Linked DNA regions of Homo sapiens. The protein of the gene in region 1 interacts with the protein of each later gene in a pairwise test. Each region holds a gene or a part of one and is shown in the gene's direction. Other genes may lie near its edges. The genes, in order: QRICH1, SP2, ZYX and HSPB8.

Region 1 (8,121 bases):
TCTCCAGCTTATGTTGCCATTTCAAACTAAAGATCAAATAGTGGTTTAATTTTCTTGTAAATTTGAATTGCTCTAGGAAAGTAACCAAAGTCAGGGGCTCTGGATGTGGCTGCCTTTCTTTAAGGCAGCTTCAGAATCAGGGATGTCTTTCCTTACTTTGGATATGCTTTTTTTTTTGGATATGCTTTCTTTTAGTTTAATTAGTTGTGGTTTATACTTCATGTGCCATATTTCTTTCTTGTCTGCTTTTTAAATGGCCACTCTTGATCTGTAAGGGTCTCTGATTTCTGAATTAGCCTTAGAATTAGGTGTTACATGAATACCTGTTCTTTTCTTTTTATTTTTATTATTATTTTTTGAGACGGAGTCTCGCTCTGTTGCCCGGGCTGGAGTGCTGTGGTGCAATCTTGGCTCACTGCAACCTCTGCCTCCTGGGTTCACGCCATTCTCCTGCCTCAGCCTCCGGAGTAGCTGGGACTGCAGGCTCCCGCCACCATGCCTGTCTCATTTTTTGTATTTTTTAGTAGAAACGGGGTTTTACTCTGTTAGCCAGGATGGTCTCAATCTCCTGACCTCGGGATCCTCCCACCTTGGCCTCCCAAAGTGCTGGGATTACAGGCGTGAGCCACCGCGCCTGGCCTATTACCTGTTCTTTTCTGTTATTCTGTTGTACTGCATTTTGTTCCAGATGTTTTAAGTCCTCTTCAGACTTCACTTAAATGCTTCCTTTGTATTTTTTCCTAGTTATTACATTAGATTGTGATTTCTGTTATTAAATTGATGTGGCTGCATGAAGAAATGGTAGATTAATTTCTTCCTTTGCTGAAAGAGGGAAGGAGTGCTCCTTTGGTCTCACTCTTCAGGCCAGGGCAAAACTGTAGGTAGAAATGGTGGCTGTGTCAGAAGGCTAATATTTTTCTCTTTTTCTCTTTTCTCTTTTTTTTTTTTTTTTGAGATGGAGTTTCACTCTTGTCGCCCAGGCTGGAGTGCAGTAGCACGATTTCGGCTCACTGCAACCTCCACCTTCCGGGTTCAAGCAATTCTCCTGCCTCAGCCTCTGGAGTAGCTGGAATTACAGGTGCCCGCCACCACGCTGGGCTAATTTTTTTTTTTTTTTTTTTTGAGACGTAGTCTCGCTCTGCTGCCCAGGCTGGAGTGCAGTGGCACGATCTCGGCTCACTGCAAGCTCCACCTTCTGGGTTCACGCCATTCTCCTGCCTCAGCCTCCCGAGTAGCTGGGACTGCAGGTGCCTGCCACCATGCCCGGCTAATTTTTTGTAGTTTTAGTAGAGACGGGGTTTCACCGTGTTAGCCAGCATGGTCTTGATCTCCTGACCTCGTGATCCGCCCGCCTCGGCCTCCCACAGTGCTGGGATTACAGGCGTGAGCCACTGTGCCCGGCTGATGTCTGGCTAATTTTTTGTATTTGTAGTAGAGACGGAGTTTCACTATGTTGGTCAGGCTGGTCTTGAACTCCTGACCTCGTGGTCTGCCTACCTTGGCCTCCCAAAGTGCTGAGATTACAGGCGTGAGCCACTGCGCCCGCCCATGTTTTTCTTTGTTTTAAAATTTGTGAAATATTTATCCATCCATGTAAATTTAGGCGATCTCTGTACAATTTAATGACAAATTATAAAGTAAATGCTGGCGAAAGTACTACTTTTTCAAGAAATAAAACGATGCCAGTATCTCTGAACCCTTCGTGGGTCCCTTCCTGATCACAGCTTCTCAAGCCGTACAGACAGCTGTTATTCTGTGATAACATTCTTCTTCTTTTTACATTTACCATCTCCGTAGCCCTTAACCTAGTTTAGATTTGTTTCCTTATGAGTTTTGTATAAATGGAGTCATGCTGTATTATGTTGTCTTAGCATAATGTTTCTGAAATTTGTTCACATTGTGTGCAGCTGTTCATTTCCATTTTTTATGTAGTATTCTGTTGTATGAATACACCATAAGGTATTTATCTATTCCACTATTGATAGATATCTGGGTTGCTTCCAGCTTTTGGCTCTTAACAATGCTGCTGTGAACATTCTTGTATTAAGTACCCTTGTTTAAAAAAAAGTTCCTTCATATATACTGATGGGTAAAATTGCTCAGGTTCGTGGAATGGATATTTTCAGCTTCACTAGATAATGCAAGTGGTTGTGCCAGTTTACAATCCGTCAATATTTGGGAAAAATACAAATTTTAGTTTCCTGATTGAAAATAGAACCATGGCCGGGTGCAGTGGCTCATGCCTGTAATCCCATTACTTTAGGAGGCCAATGCGGGCGGATCACCTAAGGTCAGGAGTTCCAGACCAGCCTGGCCAACATGGTGAAATCCCGTCTCTACTAAAAATACAAAAATTAGCAGGGCATGGTGATGGGCGCCTGTAATCCCAACTACTCGGGAAGATGAGGCAGGAGAATCGCTTGAACCTGTAGGCGGAGGTTGCAGTGAACTGAGAGGGCACCATTGCACTCCAAGCTGGGGGACAGAGCGAGACTCCATTTAAAAAAAAAAAAAGAAAAGAAAAAAAGAAAATAGAACCGTGATGAAAATGCCCCTAAACCAGGGACTCCTCTGGCATGGGGCATATAAATGGCCTAATGGGATAACTTCTATCACAAACCCTGCAGTTGGCTAGTATCCTTAAAAATCGAAATATGGGTGGAACACAGTGCCTCATGCCTGTAATCCCAGCAGTTTGGGAGGCCAAGGTGGGAGGATTGCTTGAGCCCCGGAGTTGGAGACCAGCCTGGGCAAGATGGCAAGACCCCATTTCTACAGAAAAATAAAAATAGCTGGATGTGGTAGCATGGACCTGTAGTCCCAGCTACTCGGGAGGCAGAGGCAGGAGGATTGTTTGAGCCCAGGAGTGTGAGGCTGCAGGGATCTATGAATGCACCACTGCATTTTATCCTGGGTAGTGGAGCAAGACCTTGTCTCATTAAAAAAAAAAAAAAAAAAAAAACAGACAAAAGCCTGGTGCAGTGGCTCAGGCATGTAATCCCAGCACTTTGGGAGGTCGAGGGGGGCCGTGGAAATGAACTCCTCACCTGAGGTCAGGAGTTCGAGAACAGCCTGGCCAATATGGTGAAACCCCGATTCTACTAAAAATACAAAAAAATTAGCTGGGCTGGGTGGCGTGCGCCTGTAGTTCAAGCTACTAGGGAGGCTTGAGGCAGGAGAACCACTTGAACCTGGGAAACGGAGGTTGCATTGAGCCGAGATGATGCCATTGCACTCCATCCTGGGTGAGAAAACGAGACTTCGTCTCAAAAAAATAAAAATACAAAGAAACAAAACCCAGGCAAAAGAATAGAAATACGTCAATTCTGGTCGGGCACGGTGGCTCACGCCTGTAATCCCACCACTTTGGGAGGCCGAGGCGGGCAGATCATGAGGTCAGGAGATCGAGAGCATCCTGGCTAGCACGGTGAAACTTTCTCTCTACTAAAAAATACAAAAAAATTAGCTGGATGTGGTGGCGGGCGCCTGTGGTCCCAGCTACTTGGGAGGCTGAGGCAGGAGACTGGCGTGAACCCGGGAGACAGAGCTTGCAGTGAGCCGAGATTGTGCCACTGCATTCCAGCCTGGGTGACAGAGTGAGACTCTGTCTCAAAAAAAAAAAAATAAATGAAATAAAATGAATATATTCACATGGAAAAAAAATCAATTTCCATTTTAAGGAGTCATGTCTGTCTTATAAACATATGGAGTTATTTCAAAGAAGCATAGAAGACATTGTTCTTTTTTTTTTTTTTTTTTTTTGAGATGAACCTCCGCCTCCTGAGTTCAAGCAATTCTTCTGCCTCAGCCTCCCGAGTAGCTGGGACTACAGGCGCATGGTACCCCGCCTGGCTAATTTTTGTATTTTTAGTAGAGATGGGGTTTCACCATGTTGGCCAGGCTGGTCTTGAACTCCTGACCTCGTGATATGCCCGACTCGGCCTTCCAGCGTGCTAGGATTACAGGCATGAGCCACTGCACCTGGCCTATTTTTTTATTTTTATTTTTTTTAAATTTATTTTTCTTATTATTTTTTGAGATGGAGTCTTGCTCTGTTGCCCAGGCTGGAGTGCAGTGGTGCGATCGTGGCTCACTGCAACCTTCGCCTCCCGGGTTCAAGTAATTCTCCTGCCTCAGCTTCCCTAGTAGCTGGGACTACAGGCACCACACCTGGCTAATTTTTGTATTTTTAGTAGAGACAGGGTTTCACCATATTAGCTAGGCTGGTCTCAAACTCCTTGTGATCTGCCTGCCTCAGCCTCCCAAACTGCTGGGATTATAGGCGTGAGCCACTGTGCCTGGCCTATTTTATTTTATTTTTTTGAGACAGAGTTTTGCTCTTGTTGCCCGGGCTGGAGTGCAGTGGCGCGATCTCGGCTCACTGCAACCTCCGGCTGCTGGGTGCAAGTGATTCTCCTGCCTCAGCCTCCCGAGTAGCTGAGGTTACAGGTGCCCACCACCACGCCTGGCTAATTTTTGTGTTTTTGGTAGAGATGGGATTTCACCACGTTGGCCAGACTGGTCTTGAACTCCCAACCTCAGGTGATCCGCCCACCTCAGCCTCCCAAAGTGCTGGGGATTACAGGCGTGAGCCACTGCACCGGGCCCCATATGAATGTATTCAAACTGGACTAAGCTATGAAGAGCCATTGTTGGAGTAGATGTGAACCTTGAGGGGCCTCAAAGCCCAAGGAAGAGGTAAGGTTCTGAGGCAGTTCAGACTTCTTTTAGTCCATCACGGATTGAAGACTCACTCTGCAGAGCCATACAGGGGGCCCAAAAGAGGTATCAGGGATAAGAAACCCAAGAAACAGTGATTGCAATAAGATCTTCCCTTGGTACCTAAACGGAAAAAAGAAAAAAATTAGCAAACAGACCTATAGAAATGTAATAGATTGTTGTTTTGGAGTAACCTTTGTCCATGGTACCATCTTATGTTCTAATAATAAAATAATAAAAATAATAACTCATGTAGTGAAGAATTGCTGTGCATCAGGCACTATGCTAAGCTCCAGTAGGAGGAAATACAGAGGAGCCAGGCGCAGTGGCTCACACCTGTAATCCCAGTTTTGGGAGGCTGAGGATCACGAGGTCAGGAGATCGAGACCATCCTGGCTAACACGGCGAAACCCCGTCTCTACTAAAAATACAAAAAAATTAGCCGGGCGTGGTGGTGGGTGCCTGTAGTCCCAGCTACTTGGGAGGCTGAGGCAGGAGAATGGTGTGAATCCAGGAGGTGGAGCTTACAGTGAGCCGAGATCGCACCATTGCACTCCAGCCTGGGCGACAGAGTGAGACTCCATCTCAAAAAAAAAAAAAGAAAAAGAAAAAGAGGGAGATACAGAGGAGATACCAGTGAACAATTTGATTTTATACCAGCAAAAATGTCCAGGGTCTGTTTAAGGGAGGGCTGGCTTTCCTTTATTGTTACTTATTTTTTTTTTTTTACAATGCAGCTATATTTAAAAGCGTTTAGAAGTAAATGCTTGTTTACAGACCTCATACACCCCAAGAGCATTAGAGTATTTTCTTTTTTCATTATTAGTCTCATCAGAGTCCCAGAAATTGGGAACACTCAGATATCCTCATGGCTGCATGTTTTTCAGAAATACTTTAATTAATTTCTTTATTGCTTCTTACTAAGTCTTTTACTTGGAGCTAATTAAGAATCTTTTGTCTCTTTTAGAAGTTTCTCCATTTCTCTTTATTACGAAGGCTCAACTTTTGTGTCTTATGTGCAGCATCTTGAAGTTAAGTCTTCATTATTTTGTACAAGTTTTTGGTATTTTATGGTTTAGTTTCTTTTTCTTTTTTTTTTTTTTGAGATGGAGTTTTGCCCTTGTTGCCCAGGCCGGAGTGCAGTGGCATGGTCTTGGCTCACTGCAACCTCCACCTCCCAGGTTCAAGCGATTCTCCTGTCTCAGCCTTCCGAGTAGCTGGGATTACAGGCACGTGTCACCACACCTGGCTAATTTTTTTTGTATTTTTAGTAGAGGCGGGGTTTCATCATGTTGGTCAGGCTGGTCTCAAACTACTGACCTCAGGTGATCCACCCACCTCGGCCTCCCAAAGTGCTGGGATTACAGGTATGAGCCACCTCGTTCGGCAGGTTTAGTTTCTTTCAGATTTTGAAAGAAAATCGTACTATGATCAACCAGAATTACGTGTCTGTTACCATTACTACACTATAACCACTTGTATTTTTAGTAGAGATGGGGTTTCACCGTGATAGCCAGGATGGTCTCGATCTCCTGACCTGGTGATCCGCCTGCCTCGGCCTCCCAAAATGCTGGGATTACAGGCATGAGCCACCTCTTTCGGCCGGTTTAGTTTCTTTCAGATTTTGAAAGAAAATCATACTATGATCAGCCAGAATTATGTGTCTTACCATTACTACACTATAGCCACTGTGTAGAAAAAGATGATTTTTTTTTTTTTGAGACGGAGTCTTGCTCTGTCGCCCAGGCTGGAGTGCAGTGGCACGATCTTGGCTCACTGCAAGCTCCACCTCCCAGATTCACACCATTCTCCTGCCTCAGCCTCCCGAGTAGCTGGGACTACAGGCGCCCAACACCACACCCGGCTAATTTTTTTGTATTTTTAGTAGAGACGGGGTTTCACCGTGATAGCCAGGATGGTCTCGATCTCCTGATCTGGTGATCTGCCTGCCTCGGAAAGTGCTGGGATTACAGGCGTGAGCCTTAGATTAATACCACTTGTGGAAAATTCAGAAGAGTGTTTAACAGAAGAAACTTAATTACTCTGTGGTTCCATCATCTAGGCATAACTACTGTTAGCATTCCTTTTTATCATTTTTTGAGGTGGAGTCTCACTCTTTCCCCAGGCTGAAGTGCAGTGGCGCAGTCTCAGCTCACTACAACCTCCGCCTCCCGGATTCAAGCAATTCTCCTGCCTCAGCCTCTAGAGTAGCTGGGATTACGGGTGGCTGCCACCATGCCCTGTTAGTTTTTGTATTTTTAGTGGAGATGGGGTTTCACCATGTTGGCCAGGCTGGTCTCACAATCTTGGCTGGATGTGATGGCTCACGCCTGTAATCCTAGCACTTTGGGAGACCGATGCTGTGGATCGCTTGAGGTCAGGAGTTTGAGTACATCCTGACCAACATGGCGAAATCCCGTCTCTACTAAAATACAAAAATTAGCTGGGCATGGTGGCGGGTGCCCGTAATCCCAGCCACTTTGGAGGCTGAGGCAGGAGAATTGCTTGAACCTAGGAGGCGGAGGTTTCAGTGAGCCAGGATCGTGCCACTACGCTCCAGCCTGGGCGACAGAGCAACACTGTGTCTCAATAAAAATAAAAATAAAAAAGAATTTAGGCTGGGTGTGGTTGCTCATGCCTGTAATCCCAGCACTTTGGAAGGTGGAAGCGAGTGGATTACCTGAGGTTAAGAGTTCGAGACCAGCCTGGCCAACATGGCAAAACCTCATCTCTACTAAAAATATAAAAATTAGCCGGATGTGGGCCGGGTGCGGTGGCTCATACCTGTAATCCCAGCACTTTGGGAGGCTGAGGCGGGTGGATCATGAGTTTAGGAGTTCAAGACCAGCTTGGCCAAGATGGTGAAACCCTGCCTCTACTAAAAATACAAAAATTAGCCAGGCACGGTGGCAGGTGCCTGTAATCCTAGCTACTCGGGAGGCTGAGGCAGGAGAATCGCTTGAACCTGGGGGGCACGGAGGTTGCAGTGAGCCAAGATTGTGCCTCCTGGGTTCAAGCGATTCTCCTGCCTCAGCCTCCCAAGTAGCTGGGACTACAGGTATGCAGCACCACACCTGGCTAATTTTTTTTTTTTGAGATGGAGTCTCACTCTGTCACCCAAGCTGGAGTGCAGTGGCATGATCATAGCTCATTGCAGGCTCAAACTGCTGGGATCAAGCCATCCTATCCTCCTGCCTCGGCCTCCCAAGTAGCTGGGACTACAGGCGAGAACCACCATGCCAAGCTTAGTATTGATATTTTCTAATGGTTTTATGGAATTTTTCCTACCTCAAGCTTGTTTGTCTTTTAAATTATTACTATTATTTCTAAGAGATGGGATCTCACTGTGGTGCCCAGGTTGGAGTGCTGTGGCTATCCACAGACAGGATTCTACTACTGCAG
Region 2 (7,031 bases), on another chromosome or scaffold:
AAGATGCTCTTCCTCAATTATCAGCAGATCTTTTTTTGGCTAGCAGCATTCTCTTAGGAGACCTTGGGGTGGAGGAGGTCTCACTTTTCTGTCAGCAATCTATTGGAGCAAGGTGGAAAGATGAGTGAAGAGGGTAAAAATATGTGACATTTCTTTTTTTAAAATAATAGAGGCATAGTCTCTCTATGTCAGGCTGGTCTCAAAACTCCTGGCCTCAAGCAATCCTCCCACCTCAGCCTCCCAAAGTGCTGGGATTACAGGCATGAGCCACTGTGCCTAGCCAACATGGGACATTTCTAACTCGAGGGTATTGTCAGGCCATGTAGGAAAGGGAGCAGAGATTGCCCTTGAGGAGATGCTCCCAGGTGGCAGATTTGTCCTACTTGATAGATTCCAAAATGGAAAACGGATTTTTCTGCTGCCTCTGGGGACACTGAAAAAAGAACCTCCACATGAGTTCAGAGGCAGCACCGGCAGCTTAGGGGAAGTCATGGCTTCCACTGCGTGTCTAGGAAGCGCTCTTTCAGGATGCTCTGAGGCTGCCACTGGCACAGGGGAATACTGTGCTTCTCATCAGACTGGGCTGCGGGCTGATGTGCTCTTGGGAGATGAGCTCTGCTCAGGAGCAAGAGGTTGTGAAAGGGCTGATGTTTCTTAGGCTCCCCCAATGAGCAGCTCCAAGCAGTGCTGAGATGTCTAGGCCGTTTGTGTCACAGGACAAGCACACTTGCAGACCCAACTGTTGGAATCCTTCATTGGCATATCATTCCCATTGCTGCTGTTTGTCTCCACATCAGAATTGCTTGCTATACTTAGCCAGAAGCCCTGCCACATTGCAGTGCAGAGGCTTAGCTTTCTTGTTTTTGTTGCTGAGTGCTCTGAGATACCAGTTTGTCCCTTTGTGGTGATTTAGGCAGTTAGGTGGCCTTTGATCTCATTCACAGAGTAAAAATGGCTCAGGAGGAGCCAGCAGACACTAGCGTACACATTTCCAAATGTCATCTTTCTAGAGCCTTCTCTTTGGGGTTGTCACCTCTCCTATAGAATTTGGTAGAATCACAAAGTGGTCTCCAAGAGAGTGTGAATAGGAAGTAAGAGTGAGCAGGCAGGCCATGTAATTGGAAGTGGAATATCTCTGCTCTCAATTGATAATTAGGAATCTTCTTAGATCAGCCTAGAAGAAAACAGACCAAGACATTTCCCAGCCTCCAAAAAAGTAAATGGTAAGCCAGCCCTGTCTTCTCAGGGGAAATGAAATCACCACTCATTTCAGAAGCTGATTCTGGCCTGGGGCCGGGCTGGGTGATCACGCCTGTAATCCCAGCACTTTGGGAGGCTGAGGCAGGCAGATCACTTAAGGTCAGGAGTTCGAGACCAGCCTGGCTAACATGGCAAAACCCCATCTCTACTAAAAATACAAAAATTAGCCATGTGTGGTGGCACACGCCTGTAGTCCCAGCTACTGCAGAGGCTGAGGCACGGGAATCACTTGAACCCAGGAGGCGGAGATTGCAGTGAGCCGAGAGCGCACCACTGCACCCCAGCCTGGGTAACAGAGCAAGACTCCATCTCAAACAAAAACAAAACACTGATCATGGCCCAGGATAAATGTGGGGAGTGACTCACAAATAAATGTGCCAAAGCACATAAAGAGATTCTTTAGGGGAAAAAGTATATCTTGCTTCTTTTTTTTCTCCTGTTCTCTAAAATTCTGAGGCCCAGTATTCTTTGACAAAAAAACTTGATGCTGTTTCTTGGGCCTGCTTTGATCAGGTTCTCTTCACCCTATGCTGCCCCCACCCCCACACACTTCCAGAGTCCCTTCCAGTACAATGGGATGTGACGCAGTCAGGATGCAAACTAGCAAATGACAGTCACGTTTTGGAAAGAAGAATTAAGGGTGGAGACAGATAGGCGGTATTCAAATTCAAGTGCCTTCGTTATCTTTTTTTTTTTTTTCTTGAGACGGAGTCTCGCTCTGTCACCAGGCTGAAGTGCAATGGCGCAATCTTGGCTCACTGCAACCTCTGCCTCCCGGGTTCAAGCGATTCTCCTGTCTCAGCCTCCAGAGTAGCTGGGACTACAGGCACGTGCCACCACACCCAGCTAATTTTGTATTTTTAGAAGAGACGGGGTTTCACTGTGTTGGCCAGGATGGTCTCCAACTCTTGACCTCGTGATCCATCCGCCTCAGCCTCCCAAAGTGCTAGGATTACAGGCGTGAGCCACCGTGCCTGGCTTTGTTTTTTTTGTTTTTTGTTTTGGTTTTTTTTGAGACAGAGTCTCGCTCTGTCACCAGGCTGGAGTGCAGTGGTGCTATCCCGGCTCTGCCAATGCATGTCAATGGAGAGAAGCATTAATAATGCATATCAGTTGAGAGAAGCATTGAAATGCAGTAGTACCTGGTGTGTGGTGATGAGAGGCGTGCGCTTTGAAGTTTTTGGCCAGGAGCAGGACTGGACTGCACTGGCCCACATGTGAGGTGACTGGTGGGGTTGAGGGTTCCACCAGGGTCTGGGTCAGCTAAACCCAGCTGTGGAGTGGATCCTGACCTAGTGCCAGGATATGCAAATCTGCAGCTTTTCTCCTTTGGTTCCTAAACTCGCTTTAGGCCCTCCTGCTCTAAAGCCTCCAGGATTTATTCATTCACTTATTCAACAAATATAGATTATTAAGCACCTACCATGTGCCAGGGACTGGGATACATCAGTGAGTAAGGCAGAGAAGTCCCTGCCTTTAGGAAGCTTACATCTTAGTGGGAGACAATTAATAACTAATAGATATTTGTTAGACAGTGAGAAGTGCTAAGGAGGCAAAATGAGGATAAGGTAAAAAAAGGGGGGTGGCAATTTACATAGGGTGATCAGGGAAGGTCTCAATGATAAGGTGACATCCGAGTAAAACCCTGAAGGAGTGGGGAGGAGATTGAGCCTTTTTCTATCTGGGGTGAGGGGAGGAGGGTGAGAACTCAGCAGAGAGAAGAGCAATGCAAAGACCCTCAGCAGGGGCCATACTTGGTATGTTCAGGAACAGCAGGGAGCCAGCATGGCTAAAGCAGTGAGAGAGGGAGAGTGACAGGGCAGGTGAAAGAGGTTAGGTCACACAGGGGCCTTTTGTGTCACAATGGAGATTTTGGCTTTTACTTTGAGTGGGAGATGGGATGGTATTGGGGGCCTCTGAGCAGAGAAATAACATGGTTTCATTTAAGTGTGATGGGTCTTACTCTGGATGTGTTGAGAATAGACTGATGGGGTCAAGGTCAGAAGCACAGCTAGGAGGTTAATCCGTGGGAGACATGATAGAAACCTGGACCTAGGTGATGACAGAGGAGGTGGTAGAAGCAGTCAGATTGGGCATATATTTTGAAGATAGAGTGTTTGCTGTCAAGTGTAGGGTGTGGAAAAAAGATAAGGATAACTCCCAAGGTTTTAAGGCTGAGGAGCTGGAAAGATGAAGTTACTATTCATTCACTGCAGTGGCGAATTTTGAAGGAGTCACAGGATTAGGACAATATCGGGAGCACTGTTTGGGGCTAGTTAGATTTTTGTTTTGTTTTGTTTTGTTTTTTGAGATGTTGTTTTGCTCCTGTCACGCAGGCTGGAGTGCAGTGGCACAATCTTGGCTCACTGCAACCTCCACCTCCCGGGTTCAAGCGATTCTCCTTCCTCAGCCTCCCAAGGAGCTGGGATTACAGGCGGGCACCACCACGCCCGGCTAATTTTTGTATTTTTAGTAGAGACGAGGTTTCGCCATGTTGGCCAGGCTGGTCTCCAACTCCTGACCTCAGGTGATCCACCTGCCTCGGCCGCCCAAAGTGCTGGGATTACAGGCGTGAGCCACAGCGCCCAGCTGGGGCTAGTTAGATTTACGATGCCTATTAATACATCCAAGTGGAGCTATCAGTAGGCAGTTGGATATACCAGTCGAGATAGAAATGTGAGAGTTAAAATTATATAGAATCTGTATCTTACTGGTTTCTAAACCCACGAGACTAGACAAAATCAGCTAGGAAACAGGTGTAGACAGAAGAAAGGTCCTGAGACAGAGTCCTGGGGCAACCCAATCATTTAGAATTTGAGAGGAGAGGAAGAACCAGCAAAGGAGATATGGGAGAAGTTAGCCAGAGACTAGCAAGTGTGTCCTAGAGGCCAAGTAAAGAAAGTGTTTCAAGGAAGAAGAGGCCAGGCGCGGTGGCTCACGCCTGTAATCCCAGCACTTTGGGAGGCCGAGGCGGGCAGATCACTTGAGGTTAGGAGTTCGAGACCAGCCTGGCGAACATGGTGAAACCCCAACTCTATTAAAAATACAAAAAATTAGCCGGGCGTGGTGTCAGGCCCGTGTAATCCCAGCTACCTGGGAGGCTGAGGCAGCAGAATCACTTGAACCGGGGGGCGGAGGTTGCAGCGAGCCAAGACCAAAAGGAAGAGCAATCAACTGTCAGAGCAACACGGATGACGTGGTTTAAGAAGTAGCCATGGCCGGCGCGGTGGCTCACGCCTGTAATCCCAGCACTTTGGGAGGCCGAGGTGGTCGGATCACGAAGTCAGGAGATTGAGACCATCCTGGCCAACATGGTGAAACCCTGTCTGTCTCTACTAAAATACAAAAAATCAGTCGGGCGTGGTGGCACACGCCTGTATTCCCAGCTACTCAGGAGGCTAAGGCAGGGGAATCACTTGAACCCGGGAGACGGAGGTTGCAGTGAGCTGAGATTGTGCCACTGCACTCCAGCCTGGCAACAGAGCGAGACTTTGTCTCAAAAAAAAAAAAGAAGTAGGCCAGGTGCAGTGGCTCATGCCTGTAATCCTAGCACTTTGGGAGGCTGAGACTGGCGGATCACGAGGTCAGGAGATCGAGACCATCCTGGCTAACACAGTGAAACCCTGTCTCTACTAAAAATACAAAAATAAATTAGCCAGGTGTGGTGGCGGGCACCTGTAGTCCCAGCTACTCGGGAGGCTGAGGTAGGAGAATGGCGTGAACCCGGGAGGCGGAGCTTGCAGTGAGCTGAGATTGTGGCACTGCACTCCAGCCTGGGTGACAGTGAGACTCTGTCCCAAAAAAAAAAAAAAAAAAGAAGTAGAAGTAGCCATTAGGTTTTTAGCAACATGGAGGTGTCTGGTGGTGTGAACAGTTTTCGTGGCATGCATGAGGAGGGTGCAGCCTGGTTGGAGCAGGTTTAAGAAAAGCTAGCGGGAGAGAAATTAAGGACAGTAAGTATAGGTAACTCCTGCAAGGAGTTTTGCTTGAAGAGAAGGGGAGACATAATGGATCTTAGCTGATGAGGGAAATTTTAACTTCTTGATGAAATTGTAGACATACCTAAGGGTCATTGCCTGAGGCTGGGGGTCTGAGATGGCGGAGTGGGGGGAGATGGGAGGCTCAGTAAAGGGTTAATGTGGAGACAAGATCTCCATTCCTTACTCACCTTCTTGCTTACTTCGGCCTGTGGCATTAGCAAGCCACGGCCCAGAGTTGTTCTCATTGAAATGAAAGCCATTGAAATTTGTTTTACTGTTAATGGGCTCTTTTACCATGGTTTTAATTTATTTGTTTATTTAAAATTTTTATTATTATTTTTTAAAGACAGGGTCTCACTCTGTCATTCAGGCCAGAGCACAGTGGTGCAATCATGGCTCACTGCAGCCTCGACTTCCTGGACTCAAGCAATCCTCTCGCCTTGGCCTCCTAAGGAGCTGGGACTGCAGGCACACACCACCACACCCAGCTAGTTTGTAAACATTTTTTGTAGAGATGGCATCTTGCTGTATTGCCCAGGCTAGTCTTGAACCCCTGGCCTCAAGTGATCCTCCTGTCTCGGCCTCCCAAAGTGCTGGTATTACAGGCATGAGCCACCGTGCCCACCTTATAATAGTTATTATGATTGCTGAGGTTTGCCTCTCATTGAAATATTCAGCACAATTTGGAGTCTTTCACTACCAAGGTTGCTGCTTTCTTCATCCAAATGGATTCTCATACCCCATTTGTGAGCTTTCTTTGAGGTCCAACTTTGTTCTCTAAAACCAGCCAGGGCATGCTTTTCCCTCACCAGCTCTGAATTCTTCCAGGCTAGGCAACTGGAAAAGCCTGGGCTTAGAAACTGCTTTGTTGGCTTACGGCCCAGCTGAGCTGACCAAAATAGCCAAGAGAAAGACTGTTTGCACAGTGTGAAATTCCTCCAGGGGAAATACCATAGCAAAAAGCCAAGAAAGCCAGACCCACGATGGCAGGAACCCACAGGCAAAAAAAGCCGAGTTACCCCCAAGGCCTGGGTTGTGGAGATGGAGCCTAGTTCTCTCCAGAAGAAAAAGCTTCCTAAAGCCTACTGTTGTGGTATTTCTGTAGGCGCGTTTTCTCATTTGCTGGGTCTCAAGAGTAGCATTCTCAGTGAAAGGAACAGTCGAACAGCCTGCAGCCTGGTGGCCAGGGCTCAGAGGTCTCTCTTCCTGTTACGTGCTCTCCCCAAGTCAGGCCTAGAAAGACCGTGGGACAGGGACACACTCCCAGCTCTGTGTTGATGGGACAGTGCCGAAGGGTGCCTGGAGTATGCACTGGCAGGTAGCAGGGTCACCTGCCCCAGATTTGAGGTGGGAGGAGGTCAGGAAAGGCTTTCGCTGAGTGAGAGTATAAATGAGCTCTAAAGGACAGGAGCTGGCCGGGCAAATGGGAGAGAGTGTGCTTCAGGCTCCAAGTGAGACAGGGTGGCGTGTTTTAATTCCAGAAATGAAAAACTGAAGTGTGTGTTGGGAGAGTTGGAAGGGAAAGAGGTCAGGAGGGAGGACCAGGGAGGGACAGGTTGTTCTGGCCTTTATAAGTTTATCACAAGAGCATCAGGGAACAATTGAGGGGGTTAATTAGGAGAGTAGCTGGATGGGATTTGCACTTTAAAAAGAGCCTTCTAACCAAATTGTGGAGGCTGACTAAGGGGGAGGCCAGAGGCCAGGAAGCAGTTTTAGAGGCCGTAGGCAGTATCTCAGGTGGATCATGGTGATGAGGATGGGGAGCCTGGGTACACTATAGGGAGATTTGTC
Region 3 (8,121 bases), on another chromosome or scaffold:
CCAGCTTCACCTATGCCCAGCAGAGGGAGAAGCCCCGAGTGCAGGAGAAGCAGCACCCCGTGCCCCCACCGGCTCAGAACCAAAACCAGGTGAGGGATGGTGATAGGACAAGGCTTGGTACCAGGGCACTGGGGCGGGGCTGGGTCAGGAGCCAGAGCATAAGCATAAGGTGATTGGAGAGTCAGGGTGGACACGGGGGTTGCGGGGTGGCGGGATAGGAATTTTCATCCTCTGGGGTTAGCCTGGTGGAACAATGGTAGGAAAATGCTCCTCTGGAGGAGAGGCCTGGCTGGGTGTGGGGCTGGGTGGGGCCTGGCTGGGACGGCGCAGAGAGCATGGGCTCTGAATTAGGAGGATCTGGTGGACCTTTCCTTGTGCCTTTACCCCAGAAAGTTAAAGGGAGGGATGAGATCACCAGTTCCACCTTGGTTTTTCCCATTCTTGGGTCTTGAGTTAATCTCCCTGCTCCTCTGAGCACTCTTTCTGCCTGAGGGCTTGGAGGTAAGAGACAGCCCCAGTAAACACTGGTTGAGCCAGCATCCACCACGTGCCAGGCACTGTGCTCTGTGCCCAGGAGGGTAGGACATGGGAGGGAAGAGATCTCTGCAAGAAGCTCAGCCTTCAGGTGTCAGATGGACCTGGAATGGAATTCTTGGCTCAGCTTCTCCCAAGTCCTTAGACTGGGCAAGTTAGGTGAACCCTGAGCCTCAGTTTCTCAATCTTTAACATTCTCTACTCCATACAGTGGTTGTGAAGATTGGGTGAGCTAATACCTAGAGAGTGTTGGGTTCTGTATCTAGTACAGGAATGCTCAAAATAGAAAAGCTGTAATTACAAAATGGTTCTTGCCTTCTAGTTCAGGAAATAAGATCGTCCAATTTCTGGTGACGAAGATGACCCTGATGGTCATCTAGTCCAAGCATCCAGAGTCCACTGATAGTGTTGATGTCTACCTACACTCGGACACAGCATAGGAAGAAATGCCAAGGGCCAGTGAGCTTTGCAGAATCCTGTGAGTCACAGGCACTCAGACCAGGGAGTCAACTCGGGGAGTCAAATTAGGAAAGGCTTCGAAGGATGGGCAGGACGTAAGAATCCAGAGAGGAGAGGGATGTTTGGAGAACAGAAAGTGGAAGGTTCCTGTAGGAAAATGATAGAGCTATACTTGGAGAGGCAAGCGGGGCTGGAGGGTGTAGGAGGTGAAGTGGCTCACCCAAGGAGCTCTTGAGCACTGGAGAGGCATTCATGATTTTTGAGTAGGTGTGGGGTGGGTCAGGAGGGCTGGTGAAAGCAGTGTTTTTGGAAGCTTTCTGGAAAGTTTCACCAGCAGAGATGTGTATTCGAGGGAGGTCAGTGATGGGTGTGAATTCACTCTTGGGCAATAGTAATGTTAGCTGCAATGAAAATTAAACCGTGCATGTGAGAGCTGTGTGCTAGAGCTGTTGGGAAGGCACAGCCTCCAGGACTTAGCAAGGGATGAGCAATTGGAAGACAAGGGTGAGGGGAAGAGGGAAAAAAAAGTCTCCAGCACGATTTGGAGATGGGGTGTGGGCGGATGGCAGGATTGCTGACAAAATAGAGAAGTCCAGAAGGGGAAATGGTTTGGACGGGAAGAGGAGGGGTCCAGCTGTCAACGTTTTGAGCAACAGGTCCCAGGAGGACTTTCAGCTGGGGCCGTCATTCAGCTAGAAATCCAGGGCTAGGTTTCAGGAGAGGGCCAGAGATGTCTAGCATGGTAGTGGGGCACAGTGACACTGTGACGCTGGAGGGTCAGGGTCGGAGCGGAGGAGCTTCCCAGGGAGTGCAGACAGCGGGGACCAGGAGGTGCGGGAAGAAGAGTCAGGAGGAGAGTCAGGGTGCACTTGGAGAAGAGAGCTGAGCTCCTCAGTGGGGTATTTGAGGGAGTGAGGACTCAAGGCTAGAGATTAGACTGTTGGGAAATCATCAGCGGTCTTGGGATGGCCTGTTTGTGCCCTGTGGTGGGAACACAATGTGAGGAGTTGAGGAGAGAGTGGGTGGTGAGAAGTGGGGCTGCTGGTGTAGCCTGGTCTTAAAGGACTAAGGGAAGGACTGTGTGTCAGTGGTGTGTGTGTGTGTATATATACACATATGTGAATATATGAGTGGCGTGTGTGTGTGTGTTAGTGTGTGGGTGTGGGTATGGTGTATGTGAGTGTATGTGCATGTGTGAGCATGAATGTATGAGTGGCGTGTGATGTGTGTAGTGTGATTGTGTGAAAGTATGTGTATATGAGTACATGTGTGCATGTGTGAGTGAAGGTGTGTGCATGTGTGAGTGTGGCTGTGATGTGTATGGTGTGTGATTGCACAAGTGAAGGTGCACATACATACTTTCTTACAAATACACACAAGTGGCGTATGTGTATATATGTGAGTGGTGTGTGTGAGCGTGTGGTGTGGTATATCTTTTTTTTTTTTTTTTTTTTTTTTTTGGAGACGGAGTGCAGGCTGTCGCCCATGCTTACTACAACCTCCGCCCCCCTGGCTCAAACGATTCTCCTGTCTCAGCCTCCCAAGTAGCTGGGATTACAGGCACGTTCCACCACACCTGGCTAATTTTTGTATTTTTTAGTAGAGATGGGGTTTCACCATGTTGGCTAGGCTGGTCTCGAACTCCTGACCTCAAGTGATCTGCCTGCCTCAGCCTCCCAAAGTGTTGGGATTACAGGTGTGAGCCACCGCGCCTGGCCTGGTGTGGTATTATCTGAATGTGAGTGGTGTGTGTGTGTGTGGTATGGTATATGTGTGAGTGTGTGTGTGTGGTGTGGTATATGTGTGAGTGTATGTGAGTGGTGTATGTGTGTGGTCTGGTATGTGTGTGTGCATGTGAGTGGTATGTGGGTATGTGTGAGGGTGTGTGTGTTTGAGTCTGTGGTGTAGCATATGTGGTTTTTGCAAGTTAGGGGAGAAGGGCTCAGGTACGTGTGTAACCCGGGGAAGCAGGTGATGGAGGGTGAGTGTTGTGGGAGAGCAGGGGCAGGCTGCTTCGGTCCCTGGAGGAGATCTTGGTGATGTCTCCTCCCCCAGAGGCATACCAGACAGCAAGGACAGAGTGGTTGCAGCGTGGATAGGAAGGACGATGAGGGAGCTTAAGCTGGCTGGCTTCCATGTCCTCAACCATGTGGGAGGTGAGGTCACGGTGCGAGCAAAGGGACGAAGCAGGTGGGGGCTCAGGAGATGGAGAGGTCTGGAACGGCTGCTGTGGGGAAGGCTGGGCTGGAGGTCGCGCGGGTGCTGCAGTGTTGTGAGCTCACGCTGCAGTGTTCAGTGATCTCTCCACTGCTTTCTGCAGCTTGGAAGCAGAAACAGGAAGAGGGTGGTGGTGTGACTTGGGGTTGGAGACTGGGCCGGATAGCTGCGGGTGGCTGCAGGTGCCCGGAGGGACAGTGAACCCTGTAGGAGTTAGATGGTCATGGGACCAGGCTGGGGCATGGTGGACAAAGTCCAGGGGTGGGTTGCGGGTGGGGGCAACTAAGGCTTTTCTGGGTTCATGTAGTAGGTGTGGATGGGGAAGAGGAGAGGCAGATAATGGCTGGCAAGAGACTTGGAGGTAAATCTGAGGTCAAGGATGTCCCATGATGGATGATGACTGAGATGGACGGAAGTTTGGTTTGAAGCGGTGGCATTGGTGCAGGCTGGCAGAGGGGGCAGTTCTGGATAGAGTGTCCTGATGAATGGGGATACCCATGGGAGGTGATGCAGATGAGGATTCTGTGCTTCTGAAGGAGGAGCCAGGCATTTAGAATGGCACTGGAGAGCAAGGACTGACTGAGCCCCTTCACTGTGTCCCCAAGAGGCCAGGAAGGGAAGATTGGAGGAGACAAAGTTGAAGTGAGTGTTCCAGGGAACGAGTCAGTTAAGAGATGGTAGGATCTTAAGGGAAGATGGCTAAGATCTTAAGGGAAAATGGCTAAGATCTGGAGAGTTGGACTTATATGGACGCATGCTTCACTGGGCAGAAAGGACGCAACTCTGGGTACAGATGGGGGTCGGGGTGAGGGGCAGTGAAGCCAGGGCTGAGGGGAGAGGGGCTATGGGAGGAGGTAGCAGGGGGGCTTTGGAGGTTCCAGGTGTTATGGGAATGAAGGCATCTGCAGGTAGCACACTCAGTGATGGGGCCACAGTCCTGGGTAGGCTTTTCCAGACATAGAAAAGACCCACCCAGTGCACTTGCTCCTGTGGGCGTGTCTCCCGGCAGTGCTGATGCAGGTCAGACAGCCCTTCCCGGAGTTCTCAGGGTTACCTCTCAGGGTTACTGGCAGCGCTGTCCTTAACATCCACCCCCCACTCCAGTCCCCGGGATCCCCTAAATGGGAAGGTTGGGCTGGCCTAGGGGGTGGCCTTTGGACCTTCTCTGAGGCTGCTGGGGAGGGACCTGAGTGAGGTAGTTCAGAGGCCCCTCACTCGAGGGACAGGGTCTCTGTGTGGGGGTGGGGCTGGGTTCTTGCAGACAGCTCAGTGGGTTTAACCTGCAATTCCTGCCTGTGTTGTATCCTCACGCTGACAGGGGCTGCTCAGCAGCAGGCAGGCCGGGTAGGTGTGTGTGCGCGTGTGTGCACGCCATTGCGTGCCCCTGTCCCATGGGGGCGATGTCCGAGCATGCTCTGTGGAGTTGATGCGTGGCCCTGGAGTGTCCGGTGCTTCAGTGACCCGAGCTGCTGTGTGCGTGGCCTCCGTCCGCCCAGTCATTCTGGCCTGTCTGTGACTGCTCAGGGGGTTTGGGCAGAGTGGGTGGAAATGTCTTGCTGTACGAGATCCAGGCTTAGGTCCCTTCCCCTGTTATTTGTGTGGTGCTGGGGATGGCGGGGGTAGGGGGACGAGGGAGAAGCTTTAAGGGTCAAGCCTGAGCATCTGGGACACGAGCTGGGAGCTAAGCCTCATCGGAAGAAGCCGGGTAGGCTGGCCTGGGAAGGTTCTTGGAGGCAGCAGCCCTCTAGAGTGTGAGGAAAATGTTGGGATTGCAGGTGCGCTCCCCTGGGGCCCCAGGGCCCCTGACTCTGAAGGAGGTGGAGGAGCTGGAGCAGCTGACCCAGCAGCTAATGCAGGACATGGAGCATCCTCAGAGGCAGAATGTGGCTGTCAACGGTGAGCCCACCCCACCGGGACACCCCCACCCTGCCCCCACATCACGGTGGGGGCCAGGGCTGTGGCTCCACTCCCTATCTGAGCTGGCTGATCCCTCGCAGCTCTACATACTTCCTTCTATTTACTGCTGTCTTCTCTGGCCTTCCCAGAACTCTGCGGCCGATGCCATCAACCCCTGGCCCGGGCGCAGCCAGCCGTCCGCGCTCTAGGGCAGCTGTTCCACATCGCCTGCTTCACCTGCCACCAGTGTGCGCAGCAGCTCCAGGGCCAGCAGTTCTACAGTCTGGAGGGGGCGCCGTACTGCGAGGGCTGTTACACTGTGAGTCGGGCTGTGCTGGGCTGTGCTGGGCTGTGCTGGGCAGTCGGGCCCTGGAAGCTTGCTGTGGGGTGCCGGTTCCCTGCCAACCTCCTCCTGCTGCCTCCTCAGGACACCCTGGAGAAGTGTAACACCTGCGGGGAGCCCATCACTGACCGCATGCTGAGGGCCACGGGCAAGGCCTATCACCCGCACTGCTTCACCTGTGTGGTCTGCGCCCGCCCCCTGGAGGGCACCTCCTTCATCGTGGACCAGGCCAACCGGCCCCACTGTGTCCCCGACTACCACAAGTGAGGACCTGCCACCTGCCTTCTGGGTTCCCGGCGTGCTTGGTCTGGTAGCCCGGCTGCTTGCTACCCTAGCCTCAGGACAGCCCCAAACCCCTGGTGGTGTTTTCTGGTCCCATGTCCTGTCTGTAAACAGCAGGGACCAAGTCATCGGGATGTAGCTGTCCAGGGGCCTTAGGCCTGGGCATCGAGTCCTGCTGCTGTCTGGTCCCTCCCTCGCCCTTGATCACTGAAGCTTATTGTGGGTGTATGTCAGCATTTCGTGAAGTGTGCTGGAGTGACTTCATCTCACACACAGGCTGGGTTCTAAAAGTTCTTTTGGAGATCAGCTGTTTGGATTTCTGGTTTCTCCCCAGAAATAGTGTTTAGAAGGTGGCTACTTTTTCAGGCTGACCCGCAGAACCTCAGTGCAGCTGTGGGAACAGTGCAGAATCTGACCCCCACCTCTGACAGAGTGTTTGGGTAAACACTTTCAGGATTCCATCTGGGGTGGCCACAACTTCACATCCCTCCACAGTGCCAGACAGTCAGGGCAGAGGCAACGTGCATGGGGGTGGGAGGATTGGGGGAAGGTGAGGGTCAGGGACCCAGGATGGGATGGGAGGGGTACCTCAGGGCTGGCTTTCTGCAGGAGCTGCAGTGTGAATGGGACAGTAAGGGTCGAGTGGGAGAGAACACCGTGGCAGGTGTGTGGGAGGCTCCCTTGCTTTGGGAGAGTGACTGGTGAGGCAGGAAATTCCCTTTGATGAGGGCCAGTCATGGTGTCTCACTCTTAGGCCCTTCTGGTGAGCTTCCTTCACCTGGAGATGCAGGGCAGAGAAGTCTGCTTCCTTGCTGCCCAACCTGGCTTATGCGTGCGCACACCGGGGATGAAAGCCCTGGCTAACTCGGCTGGCCCTTTCTGCCCCTTCCAGGCAGTACGCCCCGAGGTGCTCCGTCTGCTCTGAGCCCATCATGCCTGAGCCTGGCCGAGATGAGACTGTGCGAGTGGTCGCCCTGGACAAGAACTTCCACATGAAGTGTTACAAGTGTGAGGTCAGCCATCCCTCTGGACTCCTTGGGCAGGTTCTGACCAGGAGGTGGCGGGAGATGCTGCTTACTAACTGGGAGGTGGAAAGCACCAGCATTCAGGAAACAGGGCTGTGATTTTGAGGGTGGCTCATGGTGGCACCCCATCTGTCCTGCCAGAATGCTTCCTGCCACTGCAGGAAATGGGGCTGTGGGGCTTCTGAGGTCACTTTGAGTCATGGATAAGCCAAGAAATGGGACAAGCCAATAGGAGAGAAGAAGGGCATGGTGTTTTACCGTGGTAGGGGATGGGGAAACAGGAGCTGAGAGAAGAGGTCTTCGAATGGAGGTGAGCCAACCTCTATTTTATTAGGGTGGTGGTGGGCAGGGGAGCAAGCACCTTGGGAGCAGCTCTACCCACTGCTTGCCCTCTTGCAGGAAGGTCCTAGTGGGTGACTGGAAGTAGGATAGGGATGGGGAGTTGGGTGTGGCTGGAAAAAGCGATGACACCAGCTCTGAGCCATGAAGCATCTTTCTAATTCCAAGATGGAGCTGGATGGGGTGGGGTAGGGTGGAGCAGAGCAGGGGCCTTCCGGTCCAGTGCCCCTCACCCTTCCTTCTTCCCAGGACTGCGGGAAGCCCCTGTCGATTGAGGCAGATGACAATGGCTGCTTCCCCCTGGACGGTCACGTGCTCTGTCGGAAGTGCCACACTGCTAGAGCCCAGACCTGAGTGAGGACAGGCCCTCTTCAGACCGCAGTCCATGCCCCATTGTGGACCACCCACACTGAGACCACCTGCCCCCACCTCAGTTATTGTTTTGATGTCTAGCCCCTCCCATTTCCAACCCCTCCCTAGCATCCCAGGTGCCCTGACCCAGGACCCAACATGGTCTAGGGATGCAGGATCCCCGCCCTGGGGTCTGGTCCTCGCCCATCCTGCAGGGATTGCCCACCGTCTTCCAGACACCCCACCTGAGGGGGGCACCAGGTTTAGTGCTGCTGCTTTCACTGCTGCACCCGCGCCCTCGGCCGGCCCCCCGAGCAGCCTTTGTACTCTGCTTGCGGAGGGCTGGGAGACCCTCCAGGACATTCCCACCCTCCCCCATGCTGCCAAGTTGTAGCTATAGCTACAAATAAAAAAAAACCTTGTTTTCCAGAATTCTCAGTAGTCAGCTCTTTTGTAGTGCCTGCAGCCCTCATGGGTGGGATGGAGGCAGAAAATCAGTTCCTGTTTATTTACAAAAATATATATATGTGTATGTATGTATATATATTAACCCCTCAGCTCCCTCCCATGATCATCCTTTTACTTCTACCCCCACCTCCCTTTTAAAACAAAGAGGTTTTCTGGGGTGCAGAGCAGGGTTCTCCTGAAAGTGGGCAGAAGCAGCACCGATAGCCT
Region 4 (7,437 bases), on another chromosome or scaffold:
GACTTCAAGTGATCTGCCCGCCTCTGCCTCCCAAAGTGCTGGGATTACAGGTGTGAGCCACTGCGCCTGGCCCCTAAACTCTTTTCCAAGCCATCGTTGCATTTAGCCTTTGCAGCAAAAGTGTGCATCGGAGAGGAGACATGACCCTCCTTGCAATACAGGGAAACTAAGTCTCCCACAGGTGAAAGGACATACCCAAGGTCTTTACAGCTAGAATTTAGAAGGGCCCAGAATAGATCCCTGACCTCTGAGTTCCATGCTCAGTCCTTGGGCAAGGAATGCTGTTTCCTCATCTGTGAAAGGGATGCTGATTCCAGCCTTGCAGAGTTCCTGGCTGAAAGTGACATAAGGTCATGGCCCAGCGTAGGTCCTCATAAGTGGGAGTTCATTATTACTATTGTTATTGTTGACTCTTAACTTTTCCATCAGCCTTTGCAAAGAAATTCTGTGTGTGGAGAGATCACACTAGCTGAATTCTGAGGCTTCTTCCAGCTTGGGATTCTACATTCCTGTCTCTTCCCCCACATGTCCGTCCCTGGCCCTCCCACAGCCTCTGCAGTTCTTGGAAGCCTGTGGACACTTCCTGATAAGGCAAACGCCAAACCATTTGTTCTTCGTGTTTGCTGGCTTGCCTGGCATCTCCGTGCCCCACACCTCTCCCTGGTTTAGCAAGCAGATTAAACATTGCTGAGGGAGAGGAAGGAAGGCAGGGGGTGGGGGGAAGCTGATGTCAAGGCTCAAATGAGGTCTCAGGGTGGAGTCACAAGCAGGGCATAGCTGTAAAAGGGACTGTGTAAGAAAGAAGTGAATTAATCATCTTAAAAGGGGTGTGTGTGTGTGTGTGTGTGTGTGTGTGTGTGTGTGTGTATTTCACATGCTCCAAGGCCTTAGGGGAGATAGCTTGCTGGAAGTAACCTGATGAGAAATGCCTGAAATTGCTCCAGGCTGGTGCTCAGCTGCTGAGCTGGGCTAGTTGTTAAAATATTCAGTGGTCCCCAACCTTTTTGGCACCAGGGACCAGTTTCGTAGAAGGCAATTTTTCCATGGACTGGGGAATGAAACTGTTCCACCTCAGATCATCGGGCATTAGATTCTCATAAGAAGCATGCAACCTAGATCCCTCGCATGCACAGTTCACAACAGGGTTCAAGCTCCTATGAGAATCTAATGCCACTGCTGATCTGACAGGAGGCGGAGCTCAGGCAGTAATGCTGGCTGAACTGCTGCTCACCTCCTGATGTGAAGCCTGGTTCCTAACAGGCCACAGATGGGTGCCGGTCCATGATCCGGGGGATGGGGACCCCTGAATATTGGCTAGCTATTGCCCTGAGCCCTCCCTAGCCAACCCCAGTCACTCTGATCTTGTCCCCAGGACCCTCTAAACCTCTCCACCTTCCAACAACTAAAGGGTCCCAGGACCCTCCTCCATCACTATGACATGCACCCATCCCTTCTGAATGGTCAGTGCCCAGCTGCACTAGTTGTTAAATATTTTGAATCTCAGCTCCGGGTGCAGGGAGTCCTGGCTCCATGAGAAAGTGAGTGGGTAACTTGGGGCAACTTGCTTAACTGCTCTGACCTTCCATTCCCACATCCCTGCATGGAGGGGTTGTGATGGGAGTGAGAGGATGTGTATAACGCATTAAGCATGGAATACAGACTCAGGGCTTGGTCCATGGGAATTAATATTATGAAAAGGCTTCACAAGGCTGGACTCACACTCCAGCAGCTGGGACTCCTGGGAGCTCCTGGCTCTGCCCAGACTCTAGACACCTAGGAGTCGAACTGGGGTCTGGGACACCTCTGGACCAATCTCAGGAGTCCTCGTTGCCTCCTCTCCCAGGGAAAACTCCAGTCATTAGAGGACAGGGAGATTCCTTCAGCCAGGCTGAGATCCTTGGAGATTTCCACCCAGGCAGGATGCTGCAGCTGTTTGCCTTAACCATGGCAAGGAAATTCATCTCAACACATCCATCTCTGTGTGAAAAGCCCCATTTGGACTGAATAAGGAGGAGAGGGAGAGGTCTTGGGTCTCAGCTTTCAAAGTCCATGATCTTCCTATTTGGTTAGGGGAAACCAAATTACAGTCATTTGCAATACCGTCATTCACATCCCATCTTCACTATTTTTTGCCTTATATGCTTACATTGCTGTACCATGATTTACTAAAGGTTTTTTTTTCTTTTAGATCATCTCATTTTTGATAAAGTTAAATTCTTATCACTGAAATGTTCACTGAGGAAAGCGATCATGAAATAAATCCAATGAAAGCAAACTGTGGTTAAATTCTAACTAGATAATATTGCCTGCCTAAGGGCCTCAGCTCTCTCATTGTTAAAAAGGGAAGGTAGCAAGTGATAGAGGCTAAAGGCGTTAAAGGCATGTTAGTACTTAGCAGAGACATTCCTTCAGATGTAAGTAGAAGCACTGAAAGAGAACTGAAGAGGAATTACTTTCCCACCAAATGGGTTTAAATACAAGTCACTTGGTTAGAGACCTTGGACTTGTCTATCTCTCTGAGTTTCAGTTTCCCCATAAGTAATATAAGAGCATTGTCATGGACAATCAGGAAGATCCTTTGGGGCCCTGATACTCTGTGGTTCAATGATCCTGCAATTTGTATGATACTCCATCTTGCTGTCAAGATGCCAACATGTAAGGTCAAAGACTGCAACGTAATTCTCACTCCACCCTAAGAGGTGGGTACTATTATTGCCCCCTTTTTTTCTGCAAAGAAACAGGTTCAAAGAGTCAAGATCACCAGCCCCATGTTGTGTGGTCAGGAAGAGTCAGAATTTGAATGCACGTCAGCCTGCCTGCAAAACCCATGCTCTAGGCCATAGCCACCCTGTCACACTGTACCTGGTGTGCACTGGGTTGGTGTGCACATGGTTAAACAGTCAGCCCATCCCCAGCATTGGGAGGGAGGTCTAAACTTTTGACTTTGTCTCCGCTTCAAAAGCTTGACTTGGCAGCTTTCTAGTTCCCTCTTTTTCTTCCAAATGGGCTTCCCAGAAGCAGCCTTGTTCATCTCCATGGTTCCAATCTGGCAAGGAATCTCCTGGGTAGATACGGCTCATGTGGCTACAGGTTGTTGTACCCACAAAAAAAGAAAGAAAGAAAGAAAAAAAAAAAACTCCCCAGCCCCTCCAGAAGGAGTCCTGCCTATGATCAGGAATGGGCTTACCTCATGCCTTGGTTCTTTCATCAAGACCCTCGTATTTACAATAGGCAGAGCCAGCAGGGATCAGTGGAAAGATTTTGATTGAACTGCCGGTCCTTCCTGCCATAGTCCTTCTTTCAAATGTCTGGTGCTGGGGGAGGCAGGAGAGCATCATGGTCAGATACTCTGAGTTTGGAGACCAGGATTCCAATTCCATTTCCTATCTGCCATTTGCCAGCTGAGCAACCTTGGGCAAAGCAGTTCACTTCTCTGAGTCTCAATTTCCTCATCTGTAAGATGGGGATAGCAATGGAATCTGCCTGGTGGGATTATTGTTAACACCAAAATGATATGATTCAGCTAAAGTACCTGGCACATAGAAAGTACTCAGAAGGTCATGGATTTCATGGTTAAAAAAAATAATGGCACCCCAATGAGATCACTAATATGTCCTCACAGTTTTAATAGTTTGTTGAAGAAACCAAATTCTCAATAGTCTCATTCACCCAAAGCAATCCAAAAATCATAAAAATACCTTATTAGAAGTTGGACCAGATTTAGGTTTAGAAATTCCATCTTCGATGCTTTCTCACTTGTTGAGCTTGTCATTTGATTTCCCCCAAGTCTCTGTTTAGTGATCTGTAGAATGGGCATATTAATTCTTACCTCTTAATCATCCTCTTACAATACTCCAACCAAGTATTGTCTATAACTGAGTTTTAAGAACAAGATAATTGGCTGGGCTCGGTGGCTCACGCCTGTTATCTCAGCACTTTGGGAGGCTGAGGTGGGTGGATCACAAGGTCAGGAGTTCGAGACCAGCCTGGCCAACATGGTGAAACCCCATCTCTACTAAAAATACAAAAATTAGCCAGGCATGGTGGTGGGTGTCTGTAATCCACACTACTCAGGAGGCTGAGGCAGGAGAATTGCTTGAACCTTGGGAGGCGGAACTTGCAGTGAACCAAGATCGCGCCACTGAACTCCAGCCTAGGTGACAGAGTGAGACTCTGTCCCAAAAAAATAAAAGGAAGAACAAGATAATAATGATCTGCTAAGTGATTGTATTAGTCTGTTTTCACACTGCTGATAAAGACATACCTGAGACTACATAATTGATATATATATGAAAAAAAGAGTTTTAATGGACTCACAGTTCCACATGGCTGGGGAGGCCTCACAATCATGGCAAAAGGTGAAAGGCACGTCTTACATGGCAGCAGACAAGAGAGAAAATGAGAACCAAGCAAAAAATCTTATAAAACCGTCAGATCTCGTGAGACTTATTCCCTACCATGAGAACAGTATGGAGGAAACTGCCCCCTACCCATGATTCAATTATCTCCCATCAGGCCTCTCCCACAACGTATGGGAATTATGGGAGCTACAATTCAATATGAGATTTAGGTGGACACAGCCAAACCACATCAGAGATACTTAGGGTATGAACAAAATCAAGGCTTATTTTGAATACCATCGAGTATGTTGCCATCTGAAATCTACATGTGGCCAGCTTGGCCCCTTTTATCCACCAAGGTACCTAGTGCTTGCATCACCATTAATGCATTTTGTAGTGAAGCACTCTCCAGCAAGCACATGTCAGATGAAAATGTGTTGCCTGTTATGATAACACCTTACTTGCGCTCTATAAAGGGATGGTAGTGGTGCCATTTCTGCTAGTAATTGTGGTCAGTAGTGGGTATTAAGGTGATGACTTCAACCTGGGACCAAATATGTGGGCCACAGCTCTCTTTTAAGTTAAGAACTACTGTTCAAACAGCATTTTACCATTTGCAAAGCATACTCAGACTCTGAAGTTCAAATACTCTACAAGTTCAGTATTATTATCCTCATTTTGCAGATGAGAAAACAAGCTCAGAGCAACTGAATAATCTTCCCAAGACCACACAGCTAGAAAGGGGTAGAGCCAGGATTCAAACCCAACATTGTATGTCCCCAAAGCCTAAGCTCTTATCAAAAATATTTCCTCTCAAGTGAATAAAAGAATGTTTAAGCAATATTAACAACAATAAATGAATAAAATCGTGTGTTTCTCCTAGGCTTCCTGCAGAGGTGGATCCTGTGACAGTATTTGCCTCACTTTCCCCAGAGGGTCTGCTGATCATCGAAGCTCCCCAGGTCCCTCCTTACTCAACATTTGGAGAGAGCAGTTTCAACAACGAGCTTCCCCAGGACAGCCAGGAAGTCACCTGTACCTGAGATGCCAGTACTGGCCCATCCTTGTTTTGTCCCCAACCCTAGGGCTTCTCTGATTCCAGGATACATTACTTTAGCTGAACTCAGATTTAGTGCAAGTAAAATGTTAGAGGGTGCGGGGGTGAGGACTGACCACAGATTCCCTGGATAGTGTAGTGGTAGATTTCTCCACAGGATAGCGCAATTGGCAAATCATGCTTGGTTGTGTTAGGCCAAAATACTAGTTTTGCTTTCTTTACCTTTTCTATCTTGATGAAAATGTTGCACATTCTATAGTTGCAAAACACATAAAAGGGGACTTAACATTTCACGTTGTATCTTACTTGCAGTGAATGCAAGGGTTACTTTTCTCTGGGGACCTCCCCCATCACCCAGGTTCCTACTCTGGGCTCCCGATTCCCATGGCTCCCAAACCATGCCGCATGGTTTGGTTAATGAAACCCAGTAGCTAACCCCACTGTGCTTCCACATGCCTGGCCTAAAATGGGTGATATACAGGTCTTATATCCCCATATGGAATTTATCCATCAACCACATAAAAACAAACAGTGCCTTCTGCCCTCTGCCCAGATGTGTCCAGCACGTTCTCAAAGTTTCCACATTAGCACTCCCTAAGGACGCTGGGAGCCTGTCAGTTTATGATCTGACCTAGGTCCCCCCTTTCTTCTGTCCCCTGTGTTTAAGTCGGGATTTTTACAGAGGGAGCTGTCTCCAGACAGCTCCATCAGGAACCAAGCAAAGGCCAGATAGCCTGACAGATAGGCTAGTGGTATTGTGTATATGGGCGGGACGTGTGTGTCATTATTATTTGAGTTATGCTGTTGTTTAGGGGTAAATAACAGTAAATAATTAATAATAATAATAATAATAATAAAGGAGCTGACGTTCTTAGCCTTGTGTGGTTCTTTTAATGAGGAACTAAATGTAATACCACCTAGATATACAACATCAGTTAGCAATGCTGTGGCTTAAAGTAATGTTGCGCGGAGCCGCGATGCCTAAAGGAGGGAGAAAGGGAGGCCACAAAGGCTGGGCGAGGCAGTATAGGAGCCCTGAGGAGATCGACGTACAGCTGCAGGCTGAGAAGCAGAAGGCCAGGGAAGAAGAGGAGCAAAAAGAAGGTGGAGATGGGGCTGCAGGTGACCCCAAAAAGGAGAAGAAATCTCTAGACTCAGATGAGAGTGAGGATGAAGAAGATGACTACCAGCAAAACCGCAAAGGCGTTGAAGGGCTCTTCAACATCGAGAACCCCAACCAGGTGGCACAGACAACCAAAAAGGTCACACAACTGTATCTGGATGGGCCAAAGGAGCTTTCGAGGAGAGAACGAGAAGAGATTGAGAAGCAGAAGGCAAAAGAGCGTTACATGAAAATGCACTTGGCCGGGAAGACAGAGCAAGCCAAGGCTGACCTGGCCCGCTGGCCATCATCCGGAAACAGCGGGAGGAGGCTGCCCGGAAGAAGGAAGAGGAAAGGAAAGCAAAAGATGATGCCACATTGTCAGGAAAACGAATGCAGTCGCTCTCCCTGTATAAGTAACCGCGACCCATGGGAGGAGATGCCGGGGACCTGGGCCGCGCTGCCAGGACCTCTGCTGTGTCTCGCCCACCCTGTGCCCTGGCGCCGCCGCAACAGCCCCTCGTGGCCAGGAGCCCCCCATGGCCTGGGGCCTCCTCTTCATTTTGGCACAGAAATTGTTTGGGGGATGTGGGGGGAGCTGGGGGAGGGGCAGTTGCTATCTTTGAGACAGAAAGATGAGGGACAGCATTTCACATGTAACCATTTGAATGTTTTTGCTGTTTTTAGAATTCAGAGCCCTTGCTGGGGGGTGCCTGGGAGATGGGGTAAGAAGAGCTTTCATTTTTCTGGTAGATAGCATGTAAGGGGGTGGTTGTCCCAGGAGGCAGCTGCTGACAGGTTTGCTACACCCAGCCCCGGACTGTGTTGCCTAGGTGCTCATTCAGAGAGGGGCTGTCATCTGGGAGCCTGTGCCCCTGGGTCCTCGAGGGTTATGGCTTGTCCCTGGTCAGTCCTGTCTGATCGAGGCCTCGCCTCTC

The links.
Region 2: the proteins of QRICH1 (region 1) and SP2 interact in binary tests that used the Homo sapiens proteins (3 or more experiments, as listed by UniProt).
Region 3: the proteins of QRICH1 (region 1) and ZYX interact in binary tests that used the Homo sapiens proteins (3 or more experiments, as listed by UniProt).
Region 4: the proteins of QRICH1 (region 1) and HSPB8 interact in binary tests that used the Homo sapiens proteins (3 or more experiments, as listed by UniProt).

The regions. Positions count from the first base shown.
Region 1 is NC_000003.12:49,083,460-49,091,580, reverse strand, and holds part of QRICH1 (transcriptional regulator QRICH1), read left to right. Parts: intron 1-8,121. UniProt on the Homo sapiens protein: Transcriptional regulator that acts as a mediator of the integrated stress response (ISR) through transcriptional control of protein homeostasis under conditions of ER stress.
Region 2 is NC_000017.11:47,899,205-47,906,235, forward strand, and holds part of SP2 (transcription factor Sp2), read left to right. Parts: exon of another isoform or gene 1-1,174; intron 1,175-5,831; exon of another isoform or gene 5,832-7,031. UniProt on the Homo sapiens protein: Binds to GC box promoters elements and selectively activates mRNA synthesis from genes that contain functional recognition sites.
Region 3 is NC_000007.14:143,383,234-143,391,354, forward strand, and holds the end of ZYX (zyxin), read left to right. Parts: coding exon 1-89; intron 90-856; coding exon of another isoform or gene 857-868; exon of another isoform or gene 869-2,152; intron 2,153-4,985; coding exon 4,986-5,106; intron 5,107-5,255; coding exon 5,256-5,425; intron 5,426-5,533; coding exon 5,534-5,712; intron 5,713-6,623; coding exon 6,624-6,744; intron 6,745-7,344; coding exon 7,345-7,449; 3' UTR 7,450-7,878; downstream 7,879-8,121. UniProt on the Homo sapiens protein: Adhesion plaque protein. Binds alpha-actinin and the CRP protein. Important for targeting TES and ENA/VASP family members to focal adhesions and for the formation of actin-rich structures.
Region 4 is NC_000012.12:119,188,476-119,195,912, forward strand, and holds the end of HSPB8 (heat shock protein beta-8), read left to right. Parts: intron 1-5,223; coding exon 5,224-5,383; 3' UTR 5,384-6,271; downstream 6,272-7,437. UniProt on the Homo sapiens protein: Involved in the chaperone-assisted selective autophagy (CASA), a crucial process for protein quality control, particularly in mechanical strained cells and tissues such as muscle. Displays temperature-dependent chaperone activity.